2 linked regions of the Homo sapiens genome follow. The protein of the gene in region 1 purifies or fractionates together with the protein of each later gene. This does not show direct contact. Each region holds a gene or a part of one and is shown on either strand. Other genes may lie near its edges. The genes, in order: C1orf146 and PLBD1.

Evidence for each region.
Region 2: the proteins of C1orf146 (region 1) and PLBD1 purify together in Homo sapiens (affinity purification with mass spectrometry; one large-scale study listed by BioGRID and IntAct). This does not show direct contact.

The regions. Positions count from the first base shown.
Region 1 is NC_000001.11:92,231,320-92,235,142, reverse strand, and holds part of C1orf146 (protein SPO16 homolog), read right to left. Parts: intron 3,762-3,823; 5' UTR 3,723-3,761; coding exon 3,657-3,722; intron 1-3,656. UniProt on the Homo sapiens protein: Plays a key role in reinforcing the integrity of the central element of the synaptonemal complex (SC) thereby stabilizing SC, ensuring progression of meiotic prophase I in male and female germ cells.
Region 2 is NC_000012.12:14,529,830-14,533,652, forward strand, and holds part of PLBD1 (phospholipase B-like 1 precursor), read right to left. Parts: intron 3,420-3,823; exon of another isoform or gene 3,234-3,419; intron 1,382-3,233; exon of another isoform or gene 1,213-1,381; intron 413-1,212; exon of another isoform or gene 310-412; intron 1-309. UniProt on the Homo sapiens protein: In view of the small size of the putative binding pocket, it has been proposed that it may act as an amidase or a peptidase.

The sequences.
Region 1 (3,823 bases):
GGCAAGAAATAACTAAAATCAGAGCAGAAGTGAAGGAAATAGAGACACAAAAAACCCTTCAAAAAATTAATGAATCCAGGAGCTGGTTTTTTGAAAGGATCAACAAAATTGATAGACCGCTAGCAAGACTAAAAGAAAAAAAGAGAGAAGAATCAAATAGACACAATAAAAAATGATAAAGGGGATATCACCACTGATCCCACAGAAATACAAACTACCATCAGAGAATACTACAAACACCTCTATGCAAATAAACTAGAAAATCTAGAATAAATGGATAAATTCCTCGACACATACACTCTCCCAAGACTAAACCAGGAAGAAGTTGAATCTCTGAATAGACCAATAACAGGAGCTGAAATTGTGGCAATAATCCATAGCTTACCAACCAAAAAGAGTCCAGGACCAGATGGATTCACAGCCTAATTCTACCAGAGGTAAAAGGAGGAGATGGTACCATTCCTTCTGAAACTATTCCAATCAATAGAAAAAGAGGGAATCCTCCCTAACTCATTTTATGAGGCCAGCATCATCCTGATACCAAAGCCTGGCAGAGAAACAACAAAAAAAGAGAATTTTAGACCAATATCCTTGATGAACATTGATGCAAAAATCCTCAATAAAATACTGGCAAACCGAATGCAGCAGCACATCAAAAAGCTTATCCACCATGATCAAGTGGGCCTCATCCCTGGGATGCAAGGCTGGTTCAATATACGCAAATCAATAAATGTAATCCAGCATATAAACAGAACCAAAGACAAAAACCACATGATTATCTCAAAAGATGCAGAAAAGGTCTTTGACAAAATTCAACAACCCTTCATGCTAAAAACTCTCAATAAATTAGGTATTGATGGGACGTATCTCAAAATAATAACAGCTATCTATGACAAACCCACAGGCAATATCATACTCAATGGGCAAAAACTGGAAGCATTCCCTTTGAAAACTGGCACAAGACAGGGATGCCCTCTCTCACCACTCCTATTCAACATAGTGTTGGAAGTTCTGGCCAGGGCAATTAGGCAGGAGAAGGAAATAAAGGCTATTCAATTAGGAAAAGAGGAAGTCAAATTGTCCCTGTTTGCAGATGACATGATTGTGTATCTAGAAAACCCCATCGTCTCAGCCCAAAATCTCCTTAAGCTGATAAGCAACTTCAGCAAAGTCTCAGGATACAAAATCAATGTACAAAAATCACAGGCATTCTTACACACCAATAACAGACAAACAGAGAGCCAAATCATGAGCAAACTCCCATTCACAATTGCTACAAAGAGAATAAAATACCTAGGAATCCACCTTACAAGGGATGTGAAGGACCTCTTCAAGGAGAACTACAAACCACTGCTCAATGAAATTAAAGAAGATACAAACAAATGGAAGAACATTCCATGCTCATGGGTAGGAAGAATCAATATCGGGAAAATGGCCATACTGCCCAAGGTAATTTATAGATTCAATGCCATCCCCATCAAGCTACCAATGACTTTCTTCACAGAATTGGAAAAAACTACTTTAAAGTTCACATGGAACCAAAAAAGAGCCCTCATTGCCAAGTCAATCCTAAGCCAAAAGAACAAAGCTGGAGGCATCACACTACCTGACTTCAAACTATACTACAAGGCTACAGTAACCAAAACAGCATGGTACTGGTACCAAAACAGAGATATAGATCAACGGAACAGAACACAGCCCTCAGAAATAACGCCGCATATCTACAACTATCTGATCTTTGACAAACCTGAGAAAAACAAGCAATGGGGAAAGGATTCCCTATTTAATAAATGGTGCTGGGAAAACTGGCTAGCCATATGTAGAAAGCTGAAACTGGATCCCTTCCTTACACCTTATACAAAAATCAATTCAAGATGGATTAAAGACTTAAACGTTAGACCTAAAATCATAAAAACCCTAGAAGAAAACCTAGGTATTACCACCCAAGACATAGGCATGGGCAAGGACTTCACGTCTACAATACCAAAAGCAATGGCAACAAAAGCCAAAATTGACAAATGGGATCTAATTAAACTAAAGAGCTTCTGCACAGTAAAAGAAACTACCATCAGAGTGAACAGGCAACCCACAAAATGGGAGAAAATTTTCACAACCTACTCATCTGACAAAGGGCTAATATCCAGAATCTACAATGAACTCAAACAAATCTACAAGAAAAAAACAAACAACCCCATCAAAAAGTGGGTGAAGGACATGAACAGACACTTCCCAAAAGAAGACATTTATGCAGCCAAAAAACACATGAAAAAATGCTCACCATCACTGGCCATCAGAGAAATGCAAATCAAAACCACTATGAGATATCATCTCACACCAGTTAGAATGGCAATCATTAAAAAGTCAGGAAACAACAGGTGCTGGAGAGGATGTGGAGAAATAGGAACACTTTTACACTGTTGGTGGGACTGTAAACTAGTTCAACCATTGTGGAAGACAGTGTGGTGATTCCTCAGGGATCTAGAACTAGAAATACCATTTGACCCAGCCATCCCATTACTGGGTAATACCCAAAGGACTATAAATCATGCTGCTATAAAGACACATGTACACGTATGTTTACTGCGGCACTATTCACAATAGCAAAGACTTGGAACCAACCCAAATGTCCAACAATGATAGACTGGATTAAGAAAATGTGGCACATATACACCATGGAATACTATGCAGCCACAAAAAATGATGAGTTCATGTCCTTTGTAGGGACATGGATGAAGGTGGAAACCATCATTCTCAGCAAACTATCGCAAGGACAAAAAACCAAACACCGCATGTTCTCACTCATAGGTGGAAATTGAACAATGAGAACACATGGACGCAGGAAGGGGAACATCACACTCTGGGGACTGTTGTGGGGTGGGGGGAGGGAGGACGGATAGCATTGGGAGATATACCTAATGCTAGATGACGAGTTAGTGGGTGCAGCGCACCAGCATGTCACATATATATGTATGTAACTAATCTGCACACTGTGCACATGTACCCTAAAACTTAAAGTATAATAATAAAAATATATATAATTTATGAAAATGGACTCACAACAAAGTATAAAACAAAATACAGCAAAAAGCATAAAACCACACGTTACTATGGAACAATCATTTCTTGCCCCTTCATTCCAGACATCAGCTGGTGTCCGTAAGATAAATATCAGGGCAATGGAGAAGTCTTGTGAGCTGAGGAGTTTAAAACGGTTGTGAGCTGACCACCTGCTCTCAGGCATTCAACTTTCCATCTCTCCCTCTCCAAACCATAAGGAGACAGTCTCATTCCAGTGCTGCCAAGGCTAGGATATCAGTTTCTGGTTCTTTAGCTCTCAGAAAGCCTTAACTAATATATATTTGCATATCTTTACTGTTTCCGGAATTCCTTAACATCTCTATTAGAGTGCTTACAGAAGGAAAAAAAAAAAAACTTTAGAAAATCTCCAACCTTCAAAGAATTAAGGAAGTCGGATGTTGAAAATGAATGGAAAAAGTCTATTAATTTATCTTTAAAATACATTTAGCTTATGTACTTCCTGCTCCCCACAATTAATTGTGGATAATTAAGCTAAGAACCTTTTAAAATGTTGTTCTATATGAAAGCTGCTTTTAATTTTTTTAAGTTAAAGATCAGTGGCCCAAATGCCCCTTTACCTTAAGAGATGAGCTAATAATAATGGTGGTTGTCCATTTTATTTTTTCTTTTCCACTTTCAGCCATCTGTCTGTGGATCAACCTAGCTTCTAATGGTGCAACAATCTGAGAAAATTAAGAACACAAAGAATGCAAAGAAATATCTGATGAATGAGTAAATTAAAGAT
Region 2 (3,823 bases), on another chromosome or scaffold:
CTTTATTTAGAGATGTCATGATTGTATATATAGAAAATCCCAAGGAATCTACAAAAAAGCTATTAGAAAGATCTCAGGATAATAATGTACAAAAAAATCGTAATACATTGTGGTAGTTTTCAAATTTCCACAAATTCTTTGGCACCCTTCTCTTTAAAAGGTGGATTCTAATCGCCTTTCCTTGAATGTGGGCTGGTCATAACACCTTGCTTCTAATTAATAGAACCTGGTGGAAGTGAGCGTGTGTGACGTCTGAGGTGAGGTCACAATAGGCATTACTATTTCTGCCTTGTTCTTTTGGATGGCTTCGTCTGGAGCCAGGGGTCTTGCCATGAAGGACATTCAAGCAGTTCTGAGGAGAGGCCCAAGTGAAGAGGAACCAGTTGCCAGCACCACCCTGTCAGCTATGTTAGTAAGTCGTTTTGGAAGTGCATGTTCCAGTCTCAGTTAAGCTATCAGAGATTTTAGCCCCTCAGTCATTGAGTCTTCCAGCTGAGGCCCCAGTCACAGTAGAGACAAATTATCCCCACTGTGCCCTATCTAAATTCCTGATCCACAGAAACCATGAGTAACTAAATCATTATTGTTTTTAGCCACTAATGTTTGGAGCAATTTGTTATGTGGCAATGGGTAACCAATAAATACATATGAGCAACAAACAACTGAAAAAAGAATAAAAAACATTTTGATTACAGTAGCATCAAACATTACTTAGGATTTAACTTACTTAAAGGTATGTAAGACCTAAATACTGAAAACTACATGATATGACTCAAATTAAAGACTGAAATAAACAAATAGATTATATTAGTAGATTGGAAGACTCAATGTTGTTGACAAGTAAATTTTCTCTGGATTGGTTAAAACTATCAGATCTTTGTGCTGAGGTCTTCACACAATTGTATTGGCTGCCATTTCAGTGCCGTCATTTTCTAGTGATTTATCTCTTTGTCTTACCTCCTTGATTATTAATTTGCATTGCCAAAATAAGTAAATGTGTGGGGAGGGCTAGTGCAAGGCTTCTCCATTCCTTACTCAGCCTTAGCTGTTACTAGGCAAACAGACCATGTATTCAAAACCCTTCTTGTTAGGGACAGAAACTCCTAGAACAAGGCCATTCAAAGCCACTTTCCTTTGGGTATCCAGTGCCTCAGGCAAGTGTTTTTTGTTGTTGTTGTTGTTTTGTTGTTGTTTGTTTGTCTTTTTTAACAGGGCCCCTGCCTATATAAACAATTTGATTAAAAACATATATTTAAAAATTCATCAGTACATGTGAGATATGATGATTTATCATTGAAGATTTAGGATGATGGGCAGAGAAAGGCAATCTGTTTTGTCTATTGTCCAATCAGTGCACGTGAAGATTTGTTACAGTATCCAGGTACCATCTCTTTGTATTCTTTATTATTAAATGCATTGTTCTTGGCTAATTTCCTATTTTTTGTTATGAGAAAAAGGTAGCAATACTGTTATTACAAAACCATGACTTTTTGGAACCTGTTTGTTTTGAAACAACACAGATCTCCTTGCCTCTGCAGTTCCCTAACACCATTTTCTTAATGACTTTGCGACATCTACCACTCTACCTGTGAATCCTGGCTTCTAATGACTCAAAAATCCTTATTATGCTTTGTTAATGATGACCACAAATGCAAGCCTTACCCAGAGTGTTAAAAAAATTGTGAATGATAATTTGTTTTATGGTTACTAAAGCTACACTGGGAATTTTACAGTGTAAACATAGATCGACATGTTTTCTGTTGGACTCTTCAGGCTAATTGCTGCCTCCCTAGAATGTAATCTCTTTGTTGTTGTTCTTGAGACGAGGCCTCACTCTGTCCCCCAAGCTGAAGTGCAGTGGTGCTATCTCGGCTCCCTGCAACCTCTGCTTCCAGGGCTCAAGCTGTTCTTCAGCCTCAGCCTCCCAAATAGCTGGGATTACAGGCATGAGCTACCAACACTCGGCTGATTTTTTTGTATTTTTGCAGAGACGGGCTCTTGCCATGTTGCCCAGGTCTCAAACTCCTGAGCTCAAGATAATCCGCCCACCCTGGCCTCCTAAATTGCTGGGATTACAGGCATGAGCCTGCTTAGCCTGTTTAAATGTTAAGTGCATGTATTTGAAAGTAGGTACATAAAAAGATAAAAGAACAGGCTAAAAGCCCCAGGAAAATTTAAGTAAAGTTTTCATAATTTAAGGCTTCACAATTTAAGTCAAGTCTTCATGAGTCAAATCTCTTTTCATGCTGAACCCTCCCCCACCTTCACTCCTCACCCACGGGCACCAGTGGGTAGGATAGGTGAGAAGCCTATAAGTCGAGCTGGAAGAGCTGTCCCAATCACACCAGAAAAATCCATCTGGCTTAAGACTGACCCAAGACAGTAGGAAGTCACATCACCAACTGCAGCAAAAGATTTGCTGCAAAGGCCCGTTTGTGTTGTGGAGCAAGGTTCTCAAAAGGCCTCAGAGGGGCCAGGCCTAGCCCGCCCCAAGGACTGACCGACACATGGTACAGAGCTGCAGGGGTGAGGAGGCCACGACAGGGGCCAGATGTGGAGCTCATAGGTCGAAGTTCGCTTTACCGTCCTCCCCTGCTGCATGCTGAAACCCGAGGGTAAGAGGTGGTTTTCAGTAGCATAGAGCCCTGAACATATGCTCTGACATGAGAGTCACCCCAGGTCATCGTGTGACCACCGTTCTGACAGCTCAGTTATGCACCATCTTGCAAAAAATATATACTGTGAGGGCCAACTAGAGGAATCTGCTTACCAGGACCAGGCCATAGGCTTGAGTCCCAGAGCTCCTTAGGGCATCTTGTTGAACCCATGCGTGGGCAGGAATGGAGGAGAAGAGCCCCCAGATAGGGAGTCCACATGCGTTGCTTTCTGGACTCAGAGAAGCTGACCTGGATGGCTCTGCCACCTTGGTCAGTCTTGGGCACTAGAAGGGGATTTTGAAATTTTCTGGAAAGGAGCTTTCTAAACTAGATGCACAGAGACACAGGTCAAGATACTGCCAGCCTGGCCAGTCTCAGGATGCTGGAGGGGGATTTAGGTAATTTTCATGAAGGTAATTCCAAGCTGGGAGGGTGGGGTTCCTGTGCCCAGACCTAAGGGTGGTACTGAGGTTATCAGCACCTGGTATACTTTGGTATACTTTTGACCTTCCCTGGGTATTGCATGTTAGCCTCTTTAGGTGAAATAATTTCCTCAATCTCCACTTTGTATTTTAGAAAAGACTAAAAAAGACCAAGCCTGTTAAACAACTCCATCAAAGAAAAACAAGGAAGCCATCCAGCTTTGTTCTGGACTCAGCAGCTAAGATGGCATGAGCTTCATCGTAAAGCATAGTTCTATGTCATGTCTACTGGATGAATCCAATGTGGCTGGTCCCTTAATAAAATAAGTTGTAACATAAATGAGACTGCACATGTTTTCCTGTTTGGTGCTGAGAACAAAGCTGCCCAGTTAGAGAAAATATGAATCCCACTGTTCCATTGGCTCCTGTAAAAATGTTTTGGGGTATATATAAAACTGTCTGTTGCTCTCTTGGAGATTCAATTGCTCCAAAAAGCTCTACATATTATCTATGAAATCTACTTGTGTATCTCATCTGGAAGGATACATATGCAAATGTTAACAGGATTATACGTTTCATAAGAAAATCTTCCATGACCTTCTCCATCACTACCTCTGGGATCCAGGACTGTTAACACTACTGGAGAGCATTGTATTCCACAGAGATTTCAAAGCAGTGCACATAACATCTGAATATTGCATTTTATCACAAAGATGAGGAAGAGGAAGAATACTGGACTGCTCT